Homo sapiens: one gene and its partners. The protein of the gene in region 1 purifies or fractionates together with the protein of each later gene. This does not show direct contact. Each region holds a gene or a part of one and is shown in the gene's direction. Other genes may lie near its edges. The genes, in order: HK2, SEPTIN10, PYGL, TRIM36 and SEPTIN6.

The links.
Region 2: the proteins of HK2 (region 1) and SEPTIN10 fractionate together in Homo sapiens (co-fractionation; one large-scale study listed by BioGRID). This does not show direct contact.
Region 3: the proteins of HK2 (region 1) and PYGL fractionate together in Homo sapiens (co-fractionation; one large-scale study listed by BioGRID). This does not show direct contact.
Region 4: the proteins of HK2 (region 1) and TRIM36 purify together in Homo sapiens (affinity purification with western blotting; one study listed by BioGRID). This does not show direct contact.
Region 5: the proteins of HK2 (region 1) and SEPTIN6 fractionate together in Homo sapiens (co-fractionation; one large-scale study listed by BioGRID). This does not show direct contact.

What each region holds. Positions count from the first base shown.
Region 1 is NC_000002.12:74,881,158-74,887,065, forward strand, and holds part of HK2 (hexokinase-2), read left to right. Parts: intron 1-553; coding exon 554-702; intron 703-962; coding exon 963-1,082; coding exon of another isoform or gene 1,083-1,145; intron 1,146-4,336; coding exon 4,337-4,432; intron 4,433-5,136; coding exon 5,137-5,236; intron 5,237-5,332; coding exon 5,333-5,516; intron 5,517-5,908. UniProt on the Homo sapiens protein: Catalyzes the phosphorylation of hexose, such as D-glucose and D-fructose, to hexose 6-phosphate (D-glucose 6-phosphate and D-fructose 6-phosphate, respectively).
Region 2 is NC_000002.12:109,581,904-109,587,811, reverse strand, and holds part of SEPTIN10 (septin-10), read left to right. Parts: intron 1-1,973; coding exon 1,974-2,091; intron 2,092-2,490; coding exon 2,491-2,686; intron 2,687-5,908. UniProt on the Homo sapiens protein: Filament-forming cytoskeletal GTPase. May play a role in cytokinesis.
Region 3 is NC_000014.9:50,922,525-50,928,432, reverse strand, and holds part of PYGL (glycogen phosphorylase, liver form), read left to right. Parts: intron 1-4,332; coding exon 4,333-4,464; intron 4,465-5,908. UniProt on the Homo sapiens protein: Allosteric enzyme that catalyzes the rate-limiting step in glycogen catabolism, the phosphorolytic cleavage of glycogen to produce glucose-1-phosphate, and plays a central role in maintaining cellular and organismal glucose homeostasis.
Region 4 is NC_000005.10:115,165,961-115,172,509, reverse strand, and holds the start of TRIM36 (E3 ubiquitin-protein ligase TRIM36), read left to right. Parts: upstream 1-2,601; 5' UTR 2,602-2,875; coding exon 2,876-2,902; intron 2,903-3,423; exon of another isoform or gene 3,424-3,543; intron 3,544-6,549. UniProt on the Homo sapiens protein: E3 ubiquitin-protein ligase which mediates ubiquitination and subsequent proteasomal degradation of target proteins. Involved in chromosome segregation and cell cycle regulation. May play a role in the acrosome reaction and fertilization.
Region 5 is NC_000023.11:119,625,925-119,631,832, reverse strand, and holds part of SEPTIN6 (septin-6), read left to right. Parts: intron 1-2,324; coding exon 2,325-2,515; intron 2,516-5,908. UniProt on the Homo sapiens protein: Filament-forming cytoskeletal GTPase. Required for normal organization of the actin cytoskeleton. Involved in cytokinesis. May play a role in HCV RNA replication.

The sequences.
Region 1 (5,908 bases):
CTGCATGACCCACAGGGCCTAAAACGTTTGCTGTCTGGGCCTTTACAGAAAAAGATTTCTGACCCCTGCTGTAAGTCTTGTAACCTCAGAAATGGTGGTCTTATTCCAATTCAGAGAAGACAGTCGATGAGCAGGCCAGTGTAGCACAGTTGTTACAGGTTCCAGAGACAGACTGGGATTTGGTCCCTGCTCTACCCTGTCCTGGTCGTATGGCCCCGGGCAAGTGATTTAACTATCAGCCAGATCCCAATCATCCTTAAGAGAGGAATGCAGTGTCTCCCTCACAGGGCTGCCTAAGGGTTGAACGAGGACTGTGTGTGAAGCATGTGGCACACTGTAATTGTCCAACAAGGGAGGGTTTTCTCAGTTTAAAAGATTTCCCTTCAGCTTCCTTCAGGGAGCTGGACTCTTCTGTTCCTTCTGTATTCTAGAATGTAATATAAAGTGGCATTTGATGGAACAGGAATGGTGTATTTGGATCGTTTTAAGTGTACTGTCTCCACATTCCCCATGTTCTGCCCCAACTTATCACTTCCCTGGGCTTATTTTCCAGAGAAAGGGGACTTCTTGGCCTTGGACCTTGGAGGAACAAATTTCCGGGTCCTGCTGGTCCGTGTTCGGAATGGGAAGTGGGGTGGAGTGGAGATGCACAACAAGATCTACGCCATCCCGCAGGAGGTCATGCACGGCACCGGGGACGAGGTGAGCAGGGCGGCGCCTTCAGGAGGGGGCCCCTGGTGGACGTCACCTCTTGCCTTCGAGGACAGTGCTTTCTCTGCTCATCTGTGACCCTGGGGAGGGCTAGCTGGACCCAGGGCTGCAGCCTGGTCTTGACTCAGGTTTGTGCCTGAGCCTGCATTTCTTCTGGGTGGAAAGAAACATTGATGTTGTGCGCAGGCCCTACTGGGGGCAGCCTGCCCTGCCCAGGGCCCCTCCCTCAGTGTCCTAACTTCTCCCTGCAGCTCTTTGACCACATTGTCCAGTGCATCGCGGACTTCCTCGAGTACATGGGCATGAAGGGCGTGTCCCTGCCTCTGGGTTTTACCTTCTCCTTCCCCTGCCAGCAGAACAGCCTGGACGAGGTAACAGCACCTTCCTGGAGGGCTCTCCTGTGGGCTTTATTGACTCTAAACAAAACCAGCCAGGTATGGAGCAGGGGAGAAAGTTGAGCTAAGACTAAGGAAAGGAGGGCGTGAGTTACCAGTAGTGGGGAGGGGCTCCTTGATGGGAATGAGTAAGTTGAGGCTGGTGGAGGTTAAGTAGGTTAGCTCAGCTGTGACAGCCTTTGGGACAACGATGATGATGCTACTCAATGTTAACAACTGCCGGGTGTGGTGACTCATACCTGTAATCTCAGCACTTTGGGAGGCTGAGGCAGGAGGATTACTTGAGGCCAGGATTTCAAGACTAGCCTAGGCAACATAGGAAGACCCCATCTCTATTGAACTTATATATATATATATAGCATTTTTAAGCACTTACTGTGTGCCAGGTACTATGTTAGGTTTCTTACCTGCATTATCTCGTTTAACCCTCACAGCAACCATATAAGAGATATGTTTGAATACCCATTCTACAGAAAGGAAGATAAGCCCCACAGAGGTGCTGGGTGTCTTGCTCCAGGTCATAATAGCTTGGGACTGGCCAAGCCAAGATTTGGATTCTGGGTTCCTGATGCCTGAGCCTGTGCTGTCAGTTATGCTGTGGGGCTCCTGAGGCCCTTGTTATGGGCTCAGGGCATTTTCATGCCATATCCTGTTGTTTGGATGCCCTGGCTCTTCTCTGGTCTCATCTTGCTTCTCACTCCTCTTCAGGTTACCTTGGGTGAATGAAGTAGGTGCATGAGGATCTGGCACTCCCAGATGTTCTGGACATGAGTGCCCCGAGAAGTGGAGGAGAACTGAGTAGGCAGTGCTGGATCTGCTGATGACTGGTAGCCCTAAGCATTAGGTATCTGGAGACTGTTTTTAAGCAGTTGTGTCTCTGTCTCAGTCATGTAGGAGTGCACGTGCACGCTGCCGGTGTGTGGTATGTTGCACATGCCACTGCTAGGTATAAAAGGCATGGCTCCTACCTTTAGATGCTTACAAACAAGCTGGGCTGATGAAGCAAGCTCAGAAAAGGAAGAGCTGCTGTTTGGAATGTGGCCCTCGTGGGATGGATACTGAAGCCCCCAGGACAGGTAGTGAGACAGATGTTAATCCGAGTGCATACCTGGGGGATGTCAGGAGGACTTGGAACAAGTCAGAAGAATGAGTTGATGGGAAAGAAAGGTGAGCAGGCTGCCCATTGTGGAGAGGGTCATGTAGGTGGGAGCAAGTGACAGAAAGAGCTGGGCCAGCGCAGAAGAGCCTACCCTAGTGACAAGGAAAGAGCAGCATTTCCCACAGGGTCCCTGCAACAGTGGCCCTCACCTTGGCTTCACTGAGTTTTGTAGATGCCTCCTTCTCCTCCTTATCTGAGAGAATTCCCCATGTGCACTAGTATAATTAAGGTTTTAGGAAGTTCTGCAATAAAAACTCAGCTTAGTCTGGCATTTCTCAACACCTATTAACATTCATGTAGTGTTAACCAGACTAGCGTTGCTTTATGCCTCATGTGGACAAATTCTTATGTACTATTTAATGGACCATTACTTATTATAACAAAGATATTAGAAACAAACTTGCTGAATAGTGAGATAGTAGTTAAATAAATTATGACCCACTTATTAGCTAGTATCAGCCACTAGTTATTTGTAATAAATTTTAATCACATGAAAAATTACTGGTGATATGACTAAAAAGTTTTAAAACTACTTTTCTTTAGAAATGGTAATCTCTTTATAAAAAAACATAAAATACAATTAATGGGATGATAAAAGCATAACCCTCCAGTGTATATCCTTCTTCTAGACTTCCTACCAAAATATTTTCAAGTAGATACTATCTTAACTTTTCATGCCAACAGGTTATATATTTATTTATATATTTGCCAGGGAAACCAGAATGTGTGTTAACTGTTTCTGTCTGAATTGTGAGATTCCAGGCCATTGGATTAGGTTTTATTCTGTGTTCCAGGTTTCTCTGAGGAGCACGTGTTAGGTCTAGAGCCGTAAAAATTAAGAGCAAATAAAGCAGAAGTCATTTCTTCCTGTGGGCTCTGGCAAGACCCTCCTGTGATGGGGAAATCCCACCAGTGCAGAGGCCCCTGGGGTTAGAGACCCCAGGGCTCTGTGGCCCCCAGCTGTGTTTCCCAGCTGTTGGGCCTCCACTTGCCTCATCAGTAAGGATCACCTGAAATTATGTTATTTGAACATCCCGTAAACACAAACTTGCGTCAAACATGTGAAGCTAACTTGTAGAGAGCTGGGTGGAGATCAGCACACACTGGTCAGCCAGCTCTCTGAGGGTATGTGCTTTGTTTTTCTGAATCTCCTGGGGTCTGAACACAGTGTGACACCTCCAGGTTGATGTGAATGAAATGCCAAGCTGATGGGCATGAATCCCTGAGCAAGGCCTGGAGAAATCATGCAAGTGGGTGGGTTATGAGCACACAGCTCATTTATGGAAGCCGAGCTCTTGGGTAAGGAGTCTGAAGCCCTGAGGCTTGTTTCCTGGTGGGCTGTGGCAGCAGAGAGGGCATCAGGGAATAAAACCCAAAGCATTTCTCCCAGGTTCAAAGCCGTCAAGCATCTGCTCCCAGAGGACCACATTGAAGGCAAGGGGCCACTGAGGATGCTGAGGAGGAGCCTGGAGTTGTTTTCCTCACTGAAAGACATGGGGTGGTGGTGAAGCCTAGCTGTCACCCAGCTGTGGGCAAAGCACTTGTTCGCCAGATGCTGGAGTTTGAAAATTAGGAGACATACACTGACCCTTCTGATGTAAAGGATAGGGACAGAGCAAACTGCTTTGCCCAGTGAGCGAACCAAGCACATAGGAAGAAGTTGCACAGCAGGGTCAGCTGCGTGGTGCTTATGAGCCCATTCACTGGGGTCGGAGGGCCTCGGAGTGCATCCTGCTTCTCTCTTCCAAGCTGTAGGCCTTGAGCAAGTCACTCCAGAGCCTCAGTTTCTTATAAAGTGGCCATAAACATGATAGATGTTCCACAAGGGTGCTGTGAGGGTTAAATAATGTAATGCATGATCTATGCTTAGCCCAGTACCTGCTACACAGTAGGTGCTCAATAAATCCAAGTAAGTACCTTAGGAACAGTTTAATTTGCGGGTGAGATGATTGGTGACTCTGGGGGATCCGTCTGACCTGTGAGGTTGAGAGCTAGAAGCACAGCTGGACCCCCAGAACTGACCTGGGAGCTCTTCCCTGATGTCCTTTCCATGCTTGTGTGTGATTTTTAGAGCATCCTCCTCAAGTGGACAAAAGGCTTCAAGGCATCTGGCTGCGAGGGCGAGGACGTGGTGACCCTGCTGAAGGAAGCGATCCACCGGCGAGAGGTAGGAGACACATGGCACGAGGTCTGATGTGTCAGCTCCTCAATGATTGGCCTGGTCTGTGTGTTCAGAAAGTGAAGGCAACAGTAAGTGTGGCTGCATGGGTTGGGAGGAAGATTAACTCAAGCGTCGTTCAGCAGTTTAGTGTGCACTGTGTGTCAAGCAATGCTCTCAGCACTGGCGGTTCAGGAGTGACCACAACAAAGCTTTGTTCTATAAAGTCCATGACCTAGTGGCAGGTGCTGTTAAGAGCTGTGAAACACACACACACACACACACACACACACACACACACACACAGTAAAGGAATAAAAGAATGGCCACTCCATAAGCAAAACAGCCATGAGGGCTGCTGGTTGCACATTTTTATGGTTATTTCTTGATTATATGCTAAACAAGGGGTGTATTATTCATGCCTTCCCTTTTTAGACCATATAGAGTTTAAAAAAAAAAAAGAAAGAAAAGGAGTGAAGTGGGGTGAGGAGAGCAGATGGAGCAAGTGTGCTGGAAAGGGGCACTGTTAAATAGCACAACTTGGGAGGGTCTCACCAAAGAGGTGACATTTAAGCACAGACCTGAATGGAATGAGAGGGTCAGCCATGGTGTATGATATATATTTTATATACCTGTAAATCTCCCATGCAATTGTCTGAAAGGAGAATATTGGGGTTCACCTGTGAACTGGGCATCTGCTTCTTCCCTCTCAGGAGTTTGACCTGGATGTGGTTGCTGTGGTGAACGACACAGTCGGAACTATGATGACCTGTGGCTTTGAAGACCCTCACTGTGAAGTTGGCCTCATTGTTGGTAAGGACCCAGACTGTCCTTTCCACATGGGGATGCACAGCCTTGGGTGTGGAGGGGTTGGTGCTGAGTGAGGCCCTGGTATCCTGTGATTGGCAGGCACGGGCAGCAATGCCTGCTACATGGAGGAGATGCGCAACGTGGAACTGGTGGAAGGAGAAGAGGGGCGGATGTGTGTGAACATGGAATGGGGGGCCTTCGGGGACAATGGATGCCTAGATGACTTCCGCACAGAATTTGATGTGGCTGTGGATGAGCTTTCACTCAACCCCGGCAAGCAGAGGTAGGCACCCAACTGGGGCCCTGTTAAGTGTATCCCAGGACTGGATGGCAACAAGTGATCAGAGCTTCCACAATGGCATCTCCCAGGACGCCGGTTCTCGTGAGATGTTAATAAAGGAGGTTTTCTTGGAAAGGGTTTCTTGTCGAATGCACCTGGAAAGTTCTGAGTTAGTAAATGTAAGAAGCATCTCCCACCCAAAAGCCTAGGAGAACAGGTGGGAGAATACTAGACCCTAGGTCTGGCACTCTAAGGAGAAACAAGTAGAAAGTTGAAGCACCTGCTGCTGACAGGCTGAAGAGCATCTCTTGGGTGATGCAGACAGGAGCAAATCCTCTCCCTCCTCCATCTTCCAGCGCCGAGCACCACCTACTGTCAGAATTGAGCAAGGGGCC
Region 2 (5,908 bases), about 35 Mb from region 1:
CCTCCTGAGTAGCTGGGACTACAGGTGCGTGCCACCACACCTGGCTAATTTTTTGTATTTTTAGTAGACACAGGGTTTCACCGTGTTAGCCAGGATGGTCTCAATCTCCTGACCTTGTTATCCACCCGCCTCGGCCTCCCAAAGTGCTGGGATTACAGGCGTGAGCCACCACACCAGGCCTAAAGTTTTCATTATCCTTGTTTTTTAGCAGTTTGCTGTGATGTCCCTAGATGTGAGTTCCTTTGGATATTTCCTGTTTGTAGTTTGCTGAAATTCTTGTATCTCTGAGTTCAAGTTTAGAAAATTAGAAAGTTTTCAGTCACTATTATTTAGATATTTTTTTCCCTCCCTCCTACCCCCCACTTTCACCTTCTCTCTTTCTCTAACTTTTCTCCTTGTATTCCAATTACTGGTATGTTAGATCATTTGATACTCTCACACAAGTTTTTAAGACTGTCATAGTTTTATCTTTTTTCTTTCTGTGAGATTTTTAGCTTGGATAATAACTATTGAACAAATCTGTCTTCCATTATTTGATCTGCTGTTAGTACTAAATATATTTTTTACTTCAGATGTTGCATTTTTACATTCTAGAAATTCTGTCTGCTGCTTTTTGTCGTTGCGAGCTCTTTCATATCTTTCTGTAATTCCCCGTCATGCCACCCATTATATCCATCTTTTTCCTGTAGATTCTTTAGCATATTTGTTATCATTATTTAAAGTTCTTACCTGCTAATTAAACATCTGGTTCATTGTGGCTCTCTTTCTGTTGACTTTCTTTCTTGACTGTGAATCACATTTTTCTGTTTTTTTCCTGTCATAATTTTTTTATTGTATAGTAGATACTGTAGAGATGCTAGATTCTGTTTTCTTCTTCTGCAGAGTCTTGAACTTTGTTCTAACAGGCAATTAAATTGCTGACTGATCACATTGATCATGTTGAGCCTTGTTACAGGCTTTGTTAAGGCAGGTCTGCTTCAGCTGTGCTTTCTGATTGCTGAGTTATGGACCTTACTCCTAAAATGTGGCCCATCTAGGGTTTCAGTAGAAGGCCTAGGGTGTTTACAGGAGACTCTTTAACTTACAGGCTTAAAATTTAAGCTCTGTCCATCTCTCCAAGATGGCACTTGAAAACTCTGCATAGCTCCTCCCAATTCCCATTTTCCCCCTTCTGGGATCTTTGTATTCCCTCTGTATGTGTGCAGTTTGGCCATCAGCCATGGATTTGAGTGGAGTGTGTTTGTAGATTTTGGACTCCCTTCTTTCTGGAATTTTCTCCCTGAATTCCCAACCAATCTGCCTGCCCCAATCTCCAATGGACATCTTAACCCATTAAGACTATAACTTCCCTCCTGAGCTCTATCTTCCTTTTGCCATAATGACTAGGGAGTGCCTTCAGGGAAAAAGCTAGATAAACTCATCTCACCTGATAAGTTTCCTTCCCTCAAGTCTTATTCTGTCCAGTGTCTATCTGCCTTTGGTTGCACTCTAGTGACTTAAAAGGGTTGCTTGTAATTGTTACCAGTAGGCAGGTAAGTTTGACCTAAGTTACTCTGCCATTACCAGGAGCTGAACCTGTATCTGTACTTTTGTTTTGTGCTTTTTTTTCACTTGACATTTTAATGTAAGAATTTTCTAAGTTTTTATCATAAACAAATGGACTTTAACTTTTTATTTTGTAAGTGAATATGCCATAGTTGGATATTTTCCTATTTTGGAAATCGAATGTTTTAATGTTATACATAGTGCTAGACTCTCGTTGTATGAAGGGGATAAGAAATGTATGTTTTGAGGATCTGGACACAGGTTTCTTTTCCTGAAAATTTACTTAATCGCTTGTATCTTAGGTGAGGTATAATGATTATAAAAATTTTCATTTATTTGATATATTTGTCCTTCAAGTGTGCCTACATCCTATTTAAGTCAAAGTTGTTTTTTTTATTGCTGTTGTTTTTGTTTTTATTTTCCTTCAGAAAAGAGAAAACATTCGTTCGTTGACTATGTCTGGCCATGTTGGTTTTGAGAGTTTGCCTGATCAGCTGGTGAACAGATCCATTCAGCAAGGTTTCTGCTTTAATATTCTCTGTGTGGGTACGTGCCACCTACTCTTCCTCTAAGTTGTTCCTTCATATTCCTTGTGCTCACTTCATTCTTGTCATGGGCAGAACAATGCTCATGTTATCAATTTGAAATCATGATCCCAGGGATTCTCTTTAGTTGTTTAGATTCTGTTAGTTTTGTTTTTCTTAGCTTTAAGCTTTTGGCTTGTTATATAAACATCTCAGTGTTGTTGTCAGAGTCCTGAGTAGCTTAGCACACTTACTCTATGCTCTGCTAATGACTTGGGGGACCAGCCGTAGTGTGTATTTCTTTCATGCGCACCCTGGCCTTTGAAATATTTGGGATCTTTGAAACCACTCTAGGCATTTACAGTTGTATTTCTTTTCAGCCATTCATGCAACCATAAAGATGTACCTTTGTGTGTTTCAGGGGAAACTGGAATTGGAAAATCAACACTGATTGACACATTGTTTAATACTAATTTTGAAGACTATGAATCCTCACATTTTTGCCCAAATGTTAAACTTAAAGCTCAGACATATGAACTCCAGGAAAGTAATGTTCAATTGAAATTGACCATTGTGAATACAGTGGGATTTGGTGACCAAATAAATAAAGAAGAGAGGTATGTGTTTTCTTCTTGTAATAAAACAAGTTTTTCTTATTTCAAGACATTCGCCTTATAGCCCCATGAACTATGATTTGATTTTCTCCTATGGTAATCCATACCTTTCCTTCCACACATTGTTTTAAAAATAAAATAATTAAACAATATTTTGTTCTTATTAGCACATTGACATTTTTCTAGCCATTTGTCTAATTTCTTTAGAATAATTTGAATCACCTTATTAAAATGTGCATTTCAGCAAAAGTAGCTTTAATTATTTCCTGACATGCAAATTCAGTGTATATTAATTATACTAATTTTCAGGCAGGGCTTATCTCCTTGAAGAAAAAAAATACAAGACATATAAGAACAATATATACAATGGCCAAATACATGATGCTTGAATTTTTTGTAAAATTATAATCAAATTAGCCAGTTACATTATTAATCATTGCAGGAAAGTTTTGATAGTGAAATTTTAATTTATATTTTACCTTGTGTCTCTATTTGTTTTAATATTTCTCCTAAGGTCGTATAAAGATTGAGTAGAGATTCTATGCTCTATCAAATTTAAACTATGAAAGGGGGAAAAGGATTGGTAAAGCAATAACTTTTTGTTCGTTTTCCTTTTTGAAATGTGTTTCAATTTTTTTTTTTTTTTTTTTTTTTGAGACAGAGTCTCGCTCTGTCACCCAGTCTGGAGTGCAGTGGCATGATTTCGACTCACTGCAACCTCCACCTCCCCAGTTCAAGCGGTTATCCTGCCTCAGCCTCCCGAGTAGCTAGGATTACAGGCACCTGCCACCACACCTAATTTTTTTTGTGTTTTTAGTAGAGACGGGTTTCACCTTGTTGGCCAGGCTGGTCTCGACCTCCTGACCTCAGGTGATCTACCCACCTCGGCCTCCCGAAGTGCTAGGATTACAGGCGTGAGCAACTGCGCCCAGTCTTATTTCCATTTTTGTAAGTAATTTTTTTCCTTTTAAAAAATAATTTCAATTTTTCGTTTAGATTTGGGGTACATTTGCAGGTTTATTACATGGGTATATTGTGTGATGCTGAGGTTTGGGGTACAAGTGATCCAATTACCCAGGTAGTGAGCATAGTACCAATAGTTAGTTTTTCAGCCTTTACCGGGTATCTTCCTTCCCACTCTAGTAGTCCCAGTGTCTGTTGTTGCCATCTTTATATCCATGTGTACCCAATGTTTAGATCCCACTTACTTATAAGTGAGAACATATGGTATTTGGTTTTTTGTTCCTGAGTTAATTTGCTTAGGATAACGGCCTCCAGCTTCATCCATGTTGGTACAAAAGACTTGATTTTGTTCTTTTTTATGGCTGTGTAGTAGTCCATGGTAGGTATGTACCACACTTGTTTTATCCAGTCCACGTTGATGGGCAGCTAGGTTGATTCCATGTCTTTGCTATTGTGAATAGAGCTATGATGAAACATATGAGTACATGTGTCTTTTTGGTAGAATGAGGTATTTTCTTTTGGATATATTCCAAGTTGGAATAGCTGGGTCGAATGGTAGTTCTGGTTTAAGTTCTTTGAGAAATCTCCAAACTGCTTTCCACAGTGGCTGCATTAATTTACATTCCCACCAGCAGGGTACAAGCATTTCCTTTTCTCTACAGCCCCGCCAGTATCTGTTGTGTTTTGACTTTTTAATAATAGCCATTCTGACTGTTGTGAGATGGTATCTCATTGTGGTTTTGATTTGCATTTCTCTAATGATGAGTTATGTTGAGCGTTTTGTCATGTTTGTTGGCTGCTTGTATGTCCATGTCTTTTGGCCACTTTTTAATGGGGTTGTTTTTTCCTTGTTTAGTTGTTAGTTTCTTACAGATTCTGGCTGCTAGACTATTGTTGGATGCATAGTTTGTAAAAATTTTCTCCCATTCTGTAGGTTGTCTGTTTACTCTGATGATGGTTTGTTTTGCTATGTAGAAGCTCTTTAGTTTAATTGGCAATTTTTGTTTTTGTTGCATTTGCTTTTCAGGACTTAATCGTAAATTCTTTTCCAAGGCCAATGTGCAGCATGGTGCTTTCTAGGTTTTCTTCCAGGATTCTTTTATTTGAGGTCTTACATTTCAGTCTTTAATCCATCTTGAGTTAATTTTTGTTTATGGTAAAACATAGGGGTCCAGTTTCATTCTTCTGCATATGGCTAGCCAGTTATCCTAGCACCATTTATTGAATAGAGAGTCCTTTCCCCATTGCTTATTTTTGTCAGCTTTGTTGAAGATCAGATGCCTGTAGGTGTGCGGCTTTATTTCTAGGTTCTCTGTTCTATTCCATTGGTCTATTTGTCTGTTTTTATACCACAACCATGCTGTCTTGGTTACTGTAGCCTTATAGTATAGTTTGAAGTCAGGTAATGTGATTCCTCAGGCTTTGTTCTTTTGCTTAGTATTGCTTTGGCTATTCAGTCTCTTTTTTGTTTCTTTATGAATTTTAGAATAGTTTTTTCTAATTCTGTGAAAAATGACATTGGTAGTTTGATAGAAATAGCATTGAGGCCAGTTGTGGTGCCTTACGCCTGTAATCCTAGCACTCTGGGAGGTCAAGGAGAGAGGATCGCTTGCTCAGGAGTCTTGAGACTAGCCTGGGCAACATGGTGGGACCTCGTCTCTACAAAAAATTTTAAAAAATTAACCAGGCATGTTGGTGGGCACCTATACTGCCAGCTACTCGGGAGGCTGAAGTGGGACTATCACTTGAGCCTGGGAAGTCGAAGCTGCAGTGAGCCGTGATCATGCCACTGCCCTTCCAGCCTGGGTGGACAGAGTGATACCTTCTCAAAAACAAAACAAAAAAACAGCAATAGCGTTGAGTCTGTAGATTGCTTTGGGTAGTATGGCCGTTTTAACTATATTGATTCTTCCAACTATATTGATTCCATGAGCATTTTTTCAGTTTGTCGGTGTCATCTGTGATTTCTTTCAGCAGTGTTTTGTAGTTCTCTTTGCAGATACCTTTCACCTCCTTGGTTAGATATATTCCTAGGTTTTTGCGTGAGAGTGAGTGTGTGTGTGTGTGTGTGTGTGTGTGTGTGTGTGTGTCTGTTGTACATGGCATTGTGTTCTTGATACGGCTCTCAGCTTGACCATTATTGATATACAGAAATGCTGCTGATTTTTGTACATTGGTTTTGCATCTTGAAACTTCACTGAAGTTGTATATCAGTTCAGGAGCCATTTGGCGGAGTCTTTAGAGTTGTCTAGGTATGAAATT
Region 3 (5,908 bases), on another chromosome or scaffold:
TCTTGCCTCTTAGCACCCACACCAAGTTCGTAATAGCCAGTCATGCGTGATTCACATTACCCAGCAAGCTTCTAATTATCACTGTGGAATTCTTGGTGTGCCACAGAAACATTTATCAGTTATTATAACATCAGAAAGCCAAGTTCATGGGCTCTCCTGATGACTGTTCACTGGTTCTTTGTCGACTCTGTATCCCACAGGTGCAGAGAAGAGCATTTCTTAGAATTCAGTCAACAGAGTCCCCTGGGCTGACCTCTCCATCCCTGCTGGCTGGGACAGATTCCATTGAGTCATTCCTCTAAAGAAATGCCTAGTCCAGCTGCCACCTGCACCCAGGTTGGCTCTTTTACTCCACAGATCCACGCTTGCTTTCTTCAGCCCCGTGCAGCCTCTGGGATGAAACAGCTCTGACAGCTCACTTGGATGTAGATGAAAGTTCTCCCACCTTGGCCCCCCACCCCTACCCCTTCATATGATTGGCATGTTAGTGCATTTGGGGATCACTGGCTACATGGAAACCTAAATTTACAGATCAATTTGTCAATTCATTGGAAGAAAGCAAGGTAGAGAGAAGGTTTATCACCATCTTGCAGCTTCTGTAGATTTAGTGGAGGCAGCAAGGGATAGTTCTCTCCTCCTCAGATCTACTCAGGTCAACTTGTTATGAAACGCTTGTTTCTCAATCTACCTTAAAAACAAGCCTTATAAAATTGATAGAATTATTCACCAATTCTTTATTGAATCAGCGGGAGATTCACAATAAAGAACAGCAAGCAAATAAACTCTCCTACGAGTTGTTAGCCCCATGAAGCTAAAACCAATCATTTACTTGGCAGGAAAAAAATTCAACCAACATTTGATGGCATTAAGAATCTCATGTAAGAGTGTACCCTCAAAAGAGCAAATGTGGCTTATCGTGGTGGCTCACGCCTGTAATCCCAGCACTTTAGGAGGCCGAGGCAGGCAGATCACTTGAGGTCAGGAGTTCAAGATCAGCCTGGTCAACATGGTGAAACCCCGTCTCTACTAAAAATACAAAAATTAGTTGTGTGTGGTGGCGGGCACCTGTAATCCCAGGTACTTGGGAGGCTGAGGCAGGAGAATCACTTGAATCTGGGAGGCATATGTTGCAGTGAGCCAAGATTGTGCCACTGGACTCCAGCCTGGGCGACAGAGCAAAACTGTGTCTCAAAGAAAATGAAAATAAAAATAAAAAGAGTAAATGCAACCTCTGACTTCCACAGGAGTCAGGGACTGAGCCCACAGGAGGAAGTTCAGTGCCCATCCTCTCTTATCTGAGCATTTCAGGCTTCTTGGGGGCAGGACAGTATATCATCCTGCTGCATTTCTCAGCAAAAAAATATGTCATCAGTTCTCCCATGGTCATGAGTTTTCAGAGGAAAACTGTTTCTGCCTCATCGTCTTCCTATTTCATACAATACCTTCAGATGGGTTTTACAACAGCCCTGCATGCTGAAATGAGGCAAACAGGCCTATGGTTCTTTCCTGTTACAGGAAGCAGTGTTCACATTGCTCAGTATTTTAAAACCCAAAATTGGCCCTTGCCTAAGTGCAGCATAAAGTATTTTGTAAGTCAAGATGTTTTGATCCTTTGTTGATGTCATCATTTTATTTATTATAGCATTTCTAGTTATGAACCCAAGTTAATGGACTTTTTCTTTTTTTTTTTTTTTTTTTTTTTTTTTTGAGACAGAGTCTCACTCTGTCTCCCAGGCTGGAGTGCAGTGGCACAATCTCTGCTCTCTGCAACCTCTGCCTCCCAGGTTCAAGTGATTCTTTTGCCTCAGCCTCCTGAGTAGCTGGGATTACAGGTGCCCGCCACCATGCCCGGCTAATTTTCATATTTTTAGTAGAGACGGGGTTTCACCATGTTGGCCAGGCTGGTCTCAAACTCCTGACCTCATGATCAGCCCACCTCGGCCTCCCAAAGTGCTGGGATTACAGGCGTTGCCACCACGCCTGGCCAAGTTAATGGACTCTTTAACAAGCTTCTTGACAACTGGCAAACTTCAACTGTTTCTTTATTAAAATTTTATTTTATTTTATTTTACTTTATTTTTTGAGATGGAGTCTCACTCTGTCACCCAGGGTGGAGTACAGTGGCATGATCACAGCTCACTGTAGCCCTGACCTCCCGGGCTCAAGCAATCCTCCCACCTCAGCTTCCTGAGTAGCTGGGACTACAGGTGCACACCACCACACTCGGCTAATTTTTAAATTTTTTTTAGAGATAGGTTCTCACTATGTTGCCCAGGCTGCTCTCAAACTCCTGGGATCAAGTGACCTTCCTGCCTCAAAAAAATTTTATCTTTGTTCTCTTATGACTGGGATAGCGGAAGTTTAGTTTTTAATTCTGAATTACAGATTACAGTTATTGACTTTGCATTGCCTTGTAGCTCTTGGCTGCTCTTTGTGGGGTTCAGGGACCAGTAGAATCAGGAGCCCCTGGGAGCTTATTAGGAATGCAGAATTTCAGGCCCCTCCCCAGACCTACTGAGAATCTGCATTTTAAGAAGATGTGACTTTCTGACGAGCTCAGATCTCTCTCCAGCCTTCCCTAGGGTTCATCTTGCATCTGATACCTCCTCCTTCCTCCAGTGGCTCTCTAACTCCTAGCTCTTCCAACTAAAGATGTTGTTGCTATGAGTCCCATTTCCATTCATCATTACACTGGTAGTTAATATTAGTGGGAAGCTTACTGGCTTTCTTGATAAACAACACTATCAAAATTTGAATAAGTGAACTTGTATTCATTTCTCTGGCTGTTGACAATAATGGTTAGTCTAAATTCTCAAAAGATAGTGGCTGTGTTTATTTTTGTCTCTTCACACTGTTCCTGAGACAGGCATTACACTCATGTTTAGGTGATCATGAGATGTCCAACATTGTGTTGTAATTCTTAAGCAGTATCTTCTAAAACTAAAGCTGAGTTTTCTAAGAGGTGAATATGAGGTATCAAATAGGTAAAATAACCATATTGGAGATTATCTCATTGACAAAGCTGCTTTGTTTACCCCCTTCTGGCCAGAACACAATTCCATTTTTTAATGTATAGTCATGCACCACATAATGACATTTCAGTCAACAATACAACACATATGCAATAGTGGTCCCATAAGATGGTAATGGAGCTGCCCCCTGTGGGTGTACCATTTCTTATGTTTTATACTGAATTTTTACTGTACTATTTCTATGTTTAGATATACAAACACCATCGTGTTACCATTACCTATAGTATTCAGCACAGTAACGTGCTGTACAGGTTTGTAGTCTAGGAGCAGGAGGCCATACCATATAGCTCAGGTGTGTAGTAGGCAGCACCATCTGGGTTTGTGTAAGTGCACTCTGTGATGTTTGCACAATGACAACGTTGCTTAAGAACACATTTTTCAGAATGTATCCCTGTCGTTAAGCAATCCACAACTGTATGTGTCATATTTTAAAGGTTTCAATAATTTAAAAATACATCCCCCTCCAATGTGTTTGGTGGTGGTGGTGTTCTTATTTTGATGTGTTTGTTTGTTTGTTGCAAATGAAAATGTATTTGATGTCCAGGATATCCTAAATAGAAACCATAGTTTAAAATCGTATATAAGAAATATTTTGTTATAAATTGACATAAATACCTAGGAAAATATTGAAATTGTCAATAAAATAAGTTCATTACCTCTTGGAATATGTTATTTTCAAAATAAACTATAATCTATAGTTCATTATCAAATCAAAATTACATAAGGATTGAGATAAGCAAAGACTACATAATGCAATAATGTTCTGTACCTATACCAATAAGCTTGATTAAAAGAGTGTTCTGTAAGTAGCATTTTCTAACTGATTCTGTATATTCTAGCCACAAGAATCTTGACTGAACCCTTTGTGTAGGACTCAACAGGCCCAGGTATCCAACGATAAACATCCCTGTAAGGCGTCTGTCTTTAGCTGAAGCTGGACAATTGGATTCACAGACGTTAAGACAGAGGCTCTGGAACACAGAGACCTAAGGGCAGATCTTATCTCTATCGTTTACTGTTTGACCTTGAGATCTTATCTCTACCGTTTACTATTTGACCTTGAGCAGTTACAATTCCTCATCTTTAAAAGAGGATTAAATGCAGTAATACATATAAAATATTTAGAGCTGTATTAGCGAGTATTATTGTTGATGTAGGCTGTAAAAAAGTTACAAAACAGTACTCAGTATTCATAAGTTGTTTCAGTTAAAGATGTTTTAAATTTAATATAATATAATTGAAGTGCTAGGTTCATATTTCCTGACAAATAAATTCTAAGCAATACTGTATCCTTTTGCAGGTAGAAGAAGCAGATGATTGGCTCAGATATGGAAACCCTTGGGAGAAGTCCCGCCCAGAATTCATGCTGCCTGTGCACTTCTATGGAAAAGTAGAACACACCAACACCGGGACCAAGTGGATTGACACTCAAGTATTCAGAGTGCTCGTATAGCCAGCGTTTTGTATAGTATTTAGTACAGTAGATAATACATTGACTATGTAGCATATAGTGGTGATATTGAGTATAGGGCATGTCGTGTTTTGAATAATAGAATATATTTTTGTAAATAAATCTGTTACTTCTCTTAGCGCAGCCCAGTCATTTTGGAGACAAAGGAGCTGAGGCCAAGAGAGGAGTGACTTTTATAAGGGTCATTTTGCAACCAGCTTTGTCAGAAAATTGTCAGTTCTTTTTTTTTTTTTTTTTTTTTTGCCAGAAAATTGTCAGTTCTATAGTAACCAGCATGCTTACCTCTTTGGTTTTATATTAAGGTGTTGATAGCAAAATTGAATAATTTGAAATGTCATTCCTGGCTGGGTGCAGTGGCTCACAACTGTAATCCCAGCACTTTGGGAAGCCGAAGCGGGCAGATCACCTGAGGTCAGGAGTTCAAGACCAGCCTGGCCAACATGGTGAATCCCTATCTGTACTAAAAATACGAAAATTAGCCAGGAGTGGTGGCCCATGCCTATAGTCCCAGCTACATGGGAGGCTGAGGCAGGAGAATCGCTTGAACCTAGGAGGTGGAGGTTGCAGTGAGCTGAGATCATGTCGCTGCACTCCAGCCTGGGTAACAGAGTGAGACTCTGTCTCAAAAAAAATAAAATAAAATAAAATAAAAATAAAAGTTTGCAGTTTACACAATCAATCCTGGAAGCATTTTATTTACACTGTGGGTCCCACTGCTGAGCTAACTTGCATTTACAAAACACCTCTAGATACTGTCATAATGTATCCAGAAATTCAATTAGAGAGAGTGTGTGTTTCTGGGCCAACAGAGGCAAGGTTAGGGGGCAGAGGTAATATAAGTGAGCTGGCCCAAGCCATGCAACTTAGCCTCATAGATTGAAGTCATCACATGAATTAACCCCAAACTGGTACCCAGTGATGTCAGAGCATGAGTCCAGATGTGCTCTGTGCGTGCATGGGATGGCTTCCAATAAAGTCAAATGACACAGTCACGTGTCAGTTTAGGTCCTCTAGGAAACAGACACCAGAGAGAATGAGAAGTGCAAGTGACATATTGGGGGATGCCTATGAAAGACAAAGGGGAGAGGGAGCAGGATGAGGTGGGAAGGCTTCAGACTGTGACACAGGTGTGCCACCTGTGAAAAGTGAAGGGGAAAGAAGCAGCATTCTCAGGGAGAGCCTCAGACCACAGTGCCACTCTGAGCAAGTGGCCAGGCTGATGGAGCCTGACACTAAAGATTGCCCATTAGAGAAGTCTCGGCCCTAGTGTCCCAGCCACATGGAGTGTCCCAGAGAGCGCAGCTTTGGTGTGAGCTCTGAGGGAGCAAGTCCTCTTTGAGGTTCTCTGAAAGAAGATCTAAGCTGTGCACTTCTTGGGCTGCCTTAATTATGCTTCAAGGGTCAG
Region 4 (6,549 bases), on another chromosome or scaffold:
CCTGCCTCGGCCTCCCAAAGCGCTGGGATTACAGGTGTGGGCCACTGCACACATTATATTTTAGAAATCCTTTCTCATCAGTACATTGATTTTAACTGCTGCATAGTATTCCATGGTATGAATGTATATTATGCATGATGTTTAGTTATAAATAAGGTCTCAATAAGCTCTTTGTACATGTTTTTGTGCACACATGCAAGTATTACAGTAGGAACATTCTTAGATGTGGAATTGCTTAGTCAAAAGGTAAAAATATTTAAAATTTTTGATAGGATTTGTAAAATGTCCCTTGAGATAAGCTGTACCAACATACGATATCACAAAAAGGTTTGAGCAAAATAAGAGAGGCTTTGTAAATCTTGTATTTTTGATAGAGAAATAGGCAATGATACCATTACTTGGTGAATTATTAAACTTTGAACATATTTGAGGCACAAAAATATTCAAAAATTTTTACAAACACAAAATTAAAACAAGAAGACACTTATACTCTGAAAGAATTAGGCTTAGAAAGTCCTCAAATCTAGACTAATATAAGGTCTTAAACATCTCATGGGACCAAAACAAAAATACCACCAAATGATCTGTTTCAGAAGGATGAATAGATAGTTGCTCACACAACTAAAACCTGTGCTGGGGTGATAATGGTAAGGTTGTGCCCACTGCATAAGTATTTTTATTTTTTTGGAGACACAGTTTTGCCAAGTGTATTAACACTTGCCAAGTATATTAACATCATGTTTGAATTTTGTGGATCAGGTAGAAAATGATAGCTCAGTGAAGTCTGATTTGCAAAATGGAAGGCCATAGCAATGTATTTTCACCAAAATATTGTCTATACAGATTTTATCTTTAATTCCTGTTAATGGAGCCTTCTAATCACTTTTACTGTGTCAACTAATAAGTTTTGGATCAAAGCAGGTGTGCGGATGTGAAATTACAGCCCAAGGGGAATTATTTAGCTCAAAGGCCAGTATGAGAAAGACTTATAATGCTTTCTAATGGTTGAGCCTTTAAATATATGTATATATATATAGGCACCTAATTCACGCAGGCATTTGTTAGTCTCCTCCTGATTAGCACTTTTCAGAACCTGTGGGAAGGAAGCCTTCCCAAGTCTAGCACCTGCGGCCACGCAACGGGCATTAATCCGGATCAGAACAGCCCAGGCATTATTACCTGGCAAAGCTTTCGTCCTCTGTTCACCTCATCTGTAAATGGAGGGTATTCCATTAGAGAAAATTGCTATAGTCCCTCAGTGTTTTTAATTCTACACTCCTTATTTAGATGCCGGATTGGAGACGAGGCTACCGCTGCAGACAGGGCTGTGGGAAGACGACGGAACTTGCCACAGCGACAGACTTCTCCCAAACAGGAAATAAAAGTGGGAAGCATTTTAAAACCTAAACGAGATGTCTCGCTACAGCTCTGTAGTCCCTACTTACCCAGCAATTTAGGGCATCTGTTCTTAAAGCCTAATACATAGGAATGAATTGTTTAGCTAGCCAGAAAGGCAGTGCGTGATCTAATAATCCTAAATTAATTTGTTCTCCGTGTGTCCTGAAAACAACACCAGAAACACACTTGGGCCGTGGCAGGTGAAATGTGCGCCGCCAGTCCTTGAGCTGGCGCGCGCCTTAACGTTCAGCAGCACTCCCCGCGGGGGTGCGGGGGTGCCGGAGCCGCTCAGGACCCTCTGTCCTGGCCCTCAGGAAGGAAAGCGTAGGCCCGGGTGGCGGGGGGTCTCTCCCTTGCCGCGGCCTTTTAACTTCAGTCCCTGGCCAGCATCCGGGAGAGGAATCTCCACCCTGCAGGCGGTCCCCGCGCTACTGGGCAAGAACGTGCGGTGACATCGCGACTTGGGGGTATAGAAGCAGAAAGCGGGATATGACTGCTCGGTGCCCAGTCAGGGACTATTAAGTTCACCCAGCAAGTGAAGCCAGAAGAGAACTGGGACAAGCCGGGCGGGGCCAGGGAACCCCAGGCCGCGCCTGGCTAGGGACCGCGGAGAGGGCGGGCGGGGTCTCACTCTGGTCGCCTCGCGCAGCTCTGCCGTGCTCGCCGCGGCCATTCAGGGAAGGTGGCTTAGGCTCGCCCTCGCCCGCACCGTCCTGTGCCGAGCCTGGAAGCGGGGCTTCGAACCGCGAGTGAAGAAAGCGCAGTGAGAGCAAACTGAAGGGCGGAATGGCAGCGCAGGGCCAGGGGCCAGGGGCCAGGGCTGCAGCCGGCTGCTCTGCTGCAGCGGAGCCTCCCCGCCCCGGCGCCGCCCTCGGCACCCGCCCACCGCTCCCCGCTGCCCTCACTTCCGTTCCTCAGAGCCCCCCAGCCTGGCATAGGGCGACGGGCGACTACCCGGGTGGGAGGGAGGGGCTGATGCGTAGGGGGAAGGTGGCGGCGGAGGGCGCCGAGTCCCAACCGCGTGCCACACCCACGCCCAGCCGAGTCCCGCTCAGCCTACCACTCAGACACCCGGCCTACCAGCCCCAGGCGGCCCCGCCTCTTTTGTGCGACTGGCGCTGTTGCCTGGGCAACGACCAGGCCACGCCCTGTCCACGCCCCGCGGTGCCCCGCCCAGGTCTCTGCGCGGCGCCGTTCCCAGCCGCAGTCCGCAGGAGCCGCTGCTGCAGCCGGCAGCTGGGCGGGATTCCCGGGGTAGTCGCTGGGAGCAAAGCTCGCTTCTCCCGCGCCTGTGCTTTTGCCTGCCCCGGCTTACTTCTCCCCGCGTCGGTCCGCTGGCCACGTACAGCTGACCAGCTCATCTTCCAGCTTCGGACCGAGGCTCCACGGCCGCCGCAGGGACCCGCCCACCAGACCCTGCGCTCGGTAGCCGGTGTGAGTGGAACGTGCCGCTGATGACACCTGGCAGAAGGCAGCCATGGAGGGCGATGGCTCAGATTCGCCGGTGAGTGCGGAGGGGACCGCCGCCCCCACCTCGAGGGCGGTGTGCCGACCGCGGCTCTTTCTCTTTCCTCCGCCGGGAGCCCGGAGGGAGCCTCCTCCCGGGAGAGCAAAGGCAGGCGTGTGGGGATCCCGCTTCCTCTTCGCCTTCTCCCGCCCGGGGCTAGGTTCCGCAATCCGGGGCGTCCCCTTTCTATCCCCGAGAGCCGGACGTGGGGTCCCCTGGGCCGGAGAAGAGCGCAAATCCGATGGTTGCCCACCTGAGCACCTCGGGGGAATCATGGAGGGTCTCTCTAATGGAGCTCAGGCTGTAGAATTAATTAGCGTTTGGGAGTCGGGTGCGGGCAGAAAGCTGGGGCGCGTCCCTCGCGCTTGCGGGGCCGCCCTTTGTCTAGGCGTCTTGACCCCCGCGGGCCCGGCCGGCTGCCGCCGCCTGGGCCAGAGGCTCCTCCCCGGCTTCGCCTGCCCGCGGGGGGCGGGCCGGGGCCCCGGCAGCTGTCAGCCTACAAGTGTTTTTGTTTAAAGGTGTCGAATGTGCAATTCTTCCGAAGTTTCTCGAGGAACTGCTTAATTGAGGGAGCCGCCACATCACACTTAATCAGTTTGTTTCTCCCTCAATGACAGATGAACTAAATTTTCTCTTGGGTAAGAAATACTTTATGTCCATTGTGATTAAAAAGTCAGATTCAAGACACTGCTTTATGTACAAGAAAATGGAAATGATTTTAGATCCTCCCCCAGTGACAAGTAAACCTGAACTGACCATATTTATACATAAAATGGAATGTAAGAACCTATTTTGGATATCCCGGACAAGATTTTCTTTTGAATTAGGTGCCAAACCCTTTGTGAAATGAGATAGGATGTGAATATTCTGTATTCTTTGATGTGAATTGTGAGGTTTAGTTATCTTATTTCCAAATCTGTGAACAGTTGGGAGGTGATATGGCTCTTCATCACATATTTGAGTGATGCAGCAAGAGACTGCATCGAAACACCCACTGACAATGATAAAACCAGTTGGCTCTAATGCAGTTAAATTGTCAGAGATTATTGAAGCACTTGGTGTCACTTTAGGGAGAATAGGTTAGCATACATTTTAAAATTTCATTACATTTAGTTAAGTCAATTTTAATTTTCTGTGTATTTCTAGTAGCTGAAATGATTGTACAAGGTTATAAGTACTTTGAAGTTGGGCTGTCTTTAAAATTGCAGGGATGCTGACTATAGGATTCATAGATATGAAGTCTGGGATACATGGAAAAAACTACGTAGAGAAATGATGGGGAAACTGGTATGAGGTCATCAAACTTTTTTAGTTGTGATGAGTCTAAAATGCTTCTCACTTAAAATAATGAAAGGCTGTAGTATTGAGAGCAGTTGTAGTGGTGCTTATACACCTTTTTAAAGGGTCCCCTACATTCTTTTAATATTCTGTTATGGTTAGGCTTTGTGTCCACACCCAAATCTCATCTTGAATTGTAATCCCCAGGTGTTGAGGGAGAGACCTGGTGGGAGGTGATTGGATCGTGGGAGTGGTTTCCCCCATGCTGTTTTCGTGATAGTGAATTCTCCCAATATCTGATGGTTTTATAAGGCAGTATTCTCTGTTCTTACTCCCTCTCGCCTGCTGCCATGTAAAACGTGCTTGCTTCCCTTCCTGCCATATTTGTAAGTTTCCTGAGGCCTCTCCAGCCATGCAGAACTGTGAGTCAATTAAATCTCTTTTCTTTATAAATTAGCCACTCTTGGGTATTTCTTTATAACACTGTGAAAAGGGACTAACACAGAGAATTGGTACCAAGGTAGTGGGCACTGCTGTAAAGATACCCAACAATGTGGAAGTGACTTTGGAACTGAATAACAGGCAGAGATTGGAACAGTTTGGAGGGCTCAGAAGAAGACAGGAAGATGTGGGAAAGTTTGGAACTTCCTAGAGACTTGTTGAATGGTTTTGACCAAAATTCTGCTAGTGGTATGGACAAAGAAGTGCAGGCCAAGGTGGTCTCAGATGGAGATGAGGAACTTGTCGGAAACTGGAGTGAAGGTGACTCTTGCTATGCTTTAGCAAAGAGACTGGCAGTGTTTTGCCCCTGTCCTAGAGATTTGTGAAGCTTTGAACTTGAGAGAGATGAAGCGGAGCGTAAAAGTTTGGAAAATTTGCAGCCTTACCATGGAGTAGAAAGGAAAAACCTATTTTCTGGGGAGGGATTCAAGCTAGCTGCAGAAATTTGCTTAAGTAAAAAAGACTCAAATGTTAATTGCCAAGACTATGGGTAAAATGTCTCCAGGACATGTCAGAGATCTTGGCAGCAGTCCCTCCGTTTGGCAGGGCCAAACAGGTGCATTAATGAAGAGAGCCCCATCACAGGCCTGGAGGCCTAGGAGAGAAAAATGTTTTAGTGGAGTGGGCCCAGGGCCCTGCTGCTGTGTGCAGCCTCGGTATCACAGGATCCTTAGGGTGTCGCTTCACCAGCCAGAAACCTCTGTGGCAAGTGTTGCCTTTGCCCAAGTTTTGCTCAGGCCCACTGGGCTTGTTCTGCCCACTTGACCCAGCAGGCTGTGCTTGGTTTTCACTACTGGCCCAGATCCCACGGCTGCCAACGGCAAGCCAGGTGCAGAGCAGCAAGGGGTGCATGAGTGAGCGAGCGCGGGGTACAGTGTGCACAGCCAGGCATGGTGGCTGTGGCGGGGCAGGCAGGTCCAGGTGCCAGTATGGGCGCCGGCTCCTTGCTGTGGCTGGAACAGGTGTACCACAAGTGGCTCCCACTACAAGCACTGTGGAACATGGTGGCACCCAGAAACTTGGAGATGCCGGCAACTGCAGAGCCACAAAGAGGATGTCACAGCCCTGGCTTGGGGAGCTCCTAAGTCCAGGCTCCCTGAAGGGCTGCAGCTCTTCTCTCCTCTCTTGTCTCCTCATCGTCACCCACAACATGGCGAGCAGCAGGGTGTATTTGACACAGTTTGTGTTACAGCTTGTTTGGTCCTGCCATTTGGCAGGTCCAGAGTTCCTGTACTGTGTCCAGGAAGAATGAGCTACATGGACAACTGGAGGGTGAACAAGGTGCTTTATTGAGCAAAAGAGTAGCTCTCAGGAGACCTGTCATGGGTAGCTGCTTTCTGCAGGCAGTTCCTCCCGACAACTGCAGCTCTCAGCAGAGAAGAGACCCGGAGTGGGTACCTCCTCTCTGCAGGCAGGTCATTTTGTCGAGTGTGCAGTCCTCAGTGGAGAGGAGACCCAAGTGGGTAGCTCTTACCTGCAGGCAGGTCGTCCTATCATCTGCCAGAGTCTGGCTGAGTTTGCGGTTTTTATGGGCTTCAGAGGGGAGGAAGTGTGTGCTGATTGGCCCATGGGTGGCCATGGGTGGGCCTGGAAAATTCACTGTAAGTTTTCACTCCAGTCAGTGGAACTGGCAGCCTGGACCCTAGGCTTCAGGCTATCCCTGGCTTGAAGGTGGGGTTTCAGCAGGGACCTGTCCCTTTCCTCCCAGGAGCCTGTCTCCCTCCCACTGCTGTTCATGGTGCCCAGACTGTTTTAGCTGAGGGACGCCTGCAGTACCACGTTGAGTCACCCTCAGCCCTGCCCTTGGCCTCCCTCCCACGTTCATCAGCGCCCAAAGTCCAGAGGGAGCTGAGGTGGCAGGGGGC
Region 5 (5,908 bases), on another chromosome or scaffold:
CGAGATTGTCCCACTGGACTCCAGCCTGGGCAACAGAGCGAGACTCCATCTCAAAAAAAAAAAATAATTACAAATACAAAAAATTAGCCAGGCATGGTTGCACGTGCCTGTAGTCCCAGCTACCCAGGAGGCTGAGGTAGGAGGAATGCTTCAGCCGAGAGATCGAGGCCACTGCATTCCAGCCTGCGTGACAGAGTGAGACTCTGTCTCAATAAAAAAAACAAAAATGTCACCCAGCACTTTTAGGAGGAGAAGTGAGGGGATCTCAAAGACAAATGAATAAAAGTGCAACAAACAAAAACCAGGTTAAGGCAATTGATAGGCAGCCCTAGTGACTAGTAAGAGCTGCTTTAGGCCAGGCGTGGTGGCTCATGCCTGTAATCCCAACACTTTGGGAGGCCAAGGTGGGCGGATGACAAGGTCAGGAGATCGAGACCATCCTGGCTAACTCAGTGAAACCCCGTCTCTACTAAAAATACAAAAAATTAGCCAGGAGTGGTAGCACGTGCCTGTAGTCCCAGCTACTTGGGAGGCCGAGGCAGGAGAATCACTTGAACCTGGGAGGCGGAGGTTGCAGTGAGCCGAGATTGTGCCACTGCACTCCAGCTTGGGCGACAGAGCGAGACTCTGTCTCAAAAAAAAAAAAAAAAGAAAAGAAAAAAGAAAAGATCTGGTTTATACAGCAAGTCTGTCACTCACCCACCTAAGTGACAGTGCCAAATACCCCCAGGACCCGGAGAACTAACCTTCTTCATCGTATGCTGCAAGTGCTACAGAATCCTAAACTCTCTCCTGAATCCATGAAAGAAAGTGAAATTCGGCTTGCTCTGCTCTTACTATTCAGGGTAGTTTATTGCATTCTAGTTTGTGACTGTCTGTGCCTCTTGTTCTCTGATCCACTTACCACAATGGCATGCCAGAATATTCTTTTTTTTTTTTTCCGAGACAGAGTCTCACTCTTGCCCAGGCTGGAGTGCAGTGGTGCGATCTCGGCTCACTGAAAGCTCCGCCTCCCGGGTTCAAGTGATTCTCCTGTCTCAGCCTCCCAAGTAGCTGGGATTATAGGCAAGCGTCACCACGCCCAGCTCATTTTTGTATTTTTAGTAGAGACGAGGTTTCACCATGTTGGCCATGCTGGTCTAGAACTCCTGACCTTATGCCACCCACCTTGGCCTCCCAAAGTGCTGGGATTGAGCCGACTACTGGGATTACAGCACTCCCAAAGTGCTGGTATTACAGGCGTGAGCCACTGTGCCTGGCCCAGAATATTCTTCTTGTTCTTCTTTGGGTTTCTGGTTCTATTCAGGACTAATTAAGCCTCCCTTTAGTTAAGGCTGAGGTGTCTGTACTCATTCCATGTCATAAAGTCCTTTTTATTTCCTTCCATGTCCAAAGCCAAGTATTTCCTTGACTGGCTTTCCCATACTGAAGTTTTCTCTGAGATCCATGGTGATCCTTCCTGATTGCAGGGGTTAAGAAAAGACAGGGGTTCCTTACACATAAGAGGTCCCATTATATAATGTTCTAAATACTGGGTTGACCATAGTCAAATTCCTTACTTCTCAGACCTTCTGTTTCCTCATAAAATGGAGATAATAACGGAACCTACCTCATAGGAATGTGGTAACAATTAAATAAATTAATATACATAAAGGACTTATAAAAGTCAGTGCTTAGCCTGTAATTACTCGGTAATTTCTTTTTTTATTTTTTGAGACGGAGTCTTCCTCTGTTGCCCAGGCTGGAGTCCAGTGGCACAATCTTGGCTCACTGCAACCTCCGCCTCCTGGGTTCAGGTGATTCTTCTGCCTCAGCCTGCTGAGTAGCTGGGACTACAGGCACATGCCACAATGCCTGGCTAATTTTTGTATTTTTAGTAGAGACGGGGTTTCACCATGTTGGCCAGGCTGGTGTCGAACACCTGACCTCAAGTAATCTGCCCACCTTGGCCTCCCAGAGTGCTAGGATTACAGGCCTGAGCCCGGCCAGCACTCAGTAAATGTTATATTATTATAATTGATGTTATTATTGACCATGTGTGGTAACTATGGGGACTCTTTTTAACAAAATGTCTGACTAAACACAATGCAGTATTCCTTTACCATATTCAGGAGCAGAGACTTGGAGATAAAATGGCAGGAAGAGAGAACGATCCAGAGCATGGTGCCTTTGGTGCCATCATAGCAATCCCTGACAGAAATGCCCCCTGAGGTTCCAGGGTCCTGCAGGGTCACAGCCCTACTGGTCCCCACCCACCTGGGCTTGGCCAGGCTGGGGACTGCTCACAGGGGATTCTCTCCAATCTCCCTGTGCTTCCCTGCCAGCTGCACGAGAAGTTTGACCGTCTGAAGAAACTGCACCAGGACGAGAAGAAGAAACTGGAGGATAAGAAGAAATCCCTGGATGATGAAGTGAATGCTTTCAAGCAAAGAAAGACGGCGGCTGAGCTGCTCCAGTCCCAGGGCTCCCAGGCTGGAGGCTCACAGACTCTGAAGAGAGACAAAGAGAAGAAAAAGTAAGTAGCAGGCTGCTCTGGGGTGGTGCCTTCTCTTTCCTCCTGCTCATCCTCCCAGGGCAGGACGTGGCACCTGAAGGGGCTGAGGACTGGTGACCAGAGGTGAGCTGTGGGCTGTCAGACTGGTTGAGGTACCTATAACTGGTCCCAGCATCCCTGTGGCACCTTTGGATTCCCTGAGCTTGGGGAGTTGAGAGTAGCAGAGGGGTGTGGTCCCAGAGGCCCAGCCCATCTGTCCAGCTTGCTCAGGAAAGCCCTGCAAACTCAAGGTCCATAGGAAAGGAAGGGAAAAGAGGAAAAGCAAAGGAGAGTGAGAGAGCAGAAGGGAAGAAAAAAATTAGAGGTGCAGCAATATAAGAGAGGAACAAGGCCGGGCACGGTGGCTCACACCTATAATCCCAGCACTTTGGGAAGCCAAGGCAGGAGGAACACTTGAGGTCAGGAGTCCAAGACCAGCCTGGCCTATATGGCGAAACCCCGTCTCTGCTTAAAAAAAAAAGAAAAAAAAAATAGGCTGGGCACGGTGGCTCACACCTGTAATCCCAGCACTTTGGGAGGCCGAGGCAGGCAGATCACAAGGTCAGGAGATCGAGACCATCCTGGTTAACACAGTGAAACCCCATCTCTACTAAAAATACAAAAAAATTAGCTGGGTGTGGTGGTGGGTGCCTGTAGTCCCAGCTACTCGGGAGGCTGAGGCAGGAGAATGGGGTGAACCTGGGAGGCGGAGCTTGCAGTGAGCAGAGATCGTGCCACTGCACTCCAGCCTGGGCGACAGAGCGAGACTCCGTCTCAAAAAAAAAAAAAAAAAAAGAGTTCAAGACCAGCCTGAACAACATGGTGAAACCCTGTCTCTACTAAAAATACAAAAATTAGCCAGGCGCGGTGGCGCGCGCTTATAATCCCAGCTACTCAGGAGGCTGAGGCAGGAGAATTGCTTGAACCCAGGAGGCAGAGGTTGCAGTGAGTTGAGATCGCACCACTGCCCTCCAGCTTGGGCGACAGAGCGAGACTCCATCTAAAAAAAAAAAAAAAATACAGAAATTAGCTGCCTGTAGTCCCAACTACTCAGGAGGCTGAGGCAGGAGAATCACTTGAACCCGGGAGGTGTAGGTTACAGTAAGCTGAGATCACACCACTGCACTCCAGCCTGGGCAACGGAGTGAGACTCCATCTGAAAAAAAAAAAAATAGAAAAGAAAGAGAGGAACAAAAAGAACTGCAGCTACGGGCCGGGCGTGGTGTAATCCCAGCACTTTGGGAGGCCAAGGCGGGTGGATCACTTGAGTTCAGGAGTTCGAGACCAGCCTGGCCTACATGATGAAACCTTGTCTCCACTAACAATACAAAAAATTAGCCAGGCGTGGTGGCGTGCGCCTGTAATCCCAGCTACTTGGGAGGCTGAGCAGGAGAATTGCCTGAACTGAGGAGGCAGAGGTTGCAGTGAGCTAAGATAGCACCATTGCACTCCAGCCTGGGCGACAGATTGAGACTCTGTCTCAAAAAAAAAAAAAAAAAAAAAAAAAAGAAGTGCAGATACAGGATAGTGGAAGAAAGAGAGAGCCTTTAGCAGAAACTCGGTGCACCCTCTCCCCACCCTTGCCCTATATCTGAGGTTGCTCACCTCTCCATGGCCGTAGTCCCACCCTCACCCTGCCTCAGTTATTACTCTCTGCAGCCAACAGAATTTAACTGCTGCCAGTGAAGGCTGCAGCTCAGCCCTGATTTCCCACCCCTTTGTGATCCCTCCCTGCTGGCTTAGTTCTGCCTAGCCTGGGGTGCTGAGAACTTATGGGGGAGCCCTCAGATGCCAGTGTATGCTGCATGTGCCCCATCCTCAATCTGTGGAATGACTGTAAGACCTTCTGATCTCCCCTGGTATTAGAACAGTGGCTCCTGGATACCATGTGGGTCAATAATCCTCACCCAACCCCAGTCTCTGCTTGCTGAAGTTACCCATTCCTCATCCCAGAACTGGAGAAAAATATTTCAACGGGATCTAGAAAAACTCCTGTGGTGCCCTTGTGCCCTGCAGTTGTTTGTGCAGTGTGGCTTGAGGAGTTCCCAGGTGGACTGTTTAGCTGTGTCTTTACTGAAGGGTACTGAGGATCCAAAAGGTGTCCATGGTCATTGCCTTCTGTTTTCAGCCATTTGTTCCTGGACTTAACTATGGGATATTTTTGCCAGAAGGAAGAAACACCTTCCTTTCCTCTGGCTTATCACTTAGGAATAACATGGTAACTTTTGCATAACAGTAAAATATGTTATATTTGAAGGCATTCAGCTTTGCAATCCAATTACTCTTTATGCAAATGTGTAATTTAAACATCTTGGCCGGGTACGGTGGCTCACGCCTGTAATCCCAGCACTTTGGGAAACTGACGCAGGCAGATCACCTGAGGTCAGGAGTTTGAGACCAGCCTGGGCAACATGGCGAAACCCCGTCTCTACTAAAAATACAAAAATTAGCTGGGCATGGTGGCCCACACCTGTAGTCCCAGCTACTCAGGAGGCTAAGGCAGGAGAATCACTTGAGCCTGGGAGGTGGAGGTTGCAGAACCAAGATCATGCCACTGCACTTCAGCCTGGGTGACAGAGTGAGACTTTGTCTAAAAAAAAAAAAAGAACATCTTCACCAATTAGTCCAGAAATTTTTCTTACTGAATCTTAATACTATATGTCAAATTCACTGATGAATGAAATTTTTTGGTATTACCTGATGGATAAAGTTCAACTAGCCAGAAAAAAGTCTCTTTGGACACACCCTGTACTGTATTAACTTATCTGTCATGGTGTATTAGTTGCACCAGCAGGAATGAATTCCTATTTTTAAGATCAGAAAAATCTAAATTTGTCATCCAGCTGTAACCTGCTGCCTTCATAGTCCTGTGGTATTTGTTAACTCAGTACCTGGGGCAGTTTCATAGCCTGCTTGTGGGAGTTAGGAATTGGTTTGTTCAGGCTACAATGAAACTATAAATATTCCCTATTCAGATGTTCAGTAAAAGTTCTTCTTACATCAAGCTTTCCCCTTGTTGCCTCATACTGACTGACTTCTCCCACCCCAGGCAGGAGACCCCAACAGGGAGATACCCCTCTCTACTCTTCAGGAATATTTGGGGTTGGTGACAGTGCCCCTTTCCAATTCTGAAATGGGTGAAAACCCTGCTGGCATGTGGCACCTTATATTAGCAATAAGGGCCTAACAGAATGACCTGTCTTCTTCTGTACTTCCAGATGCAGAAGTGGCCCTGAATCTTGGCTTCTTATGTAATTTCATGAGCAATTTGTTAACTTCTGGAAGAGCCACCGTTAGACCTGTGCTACCCTCCTCCCATAGTCACGGTAGTGAGTTTTGAGGGCAGAAATGGTGGTAGTAGTATTTCTTCTTGAG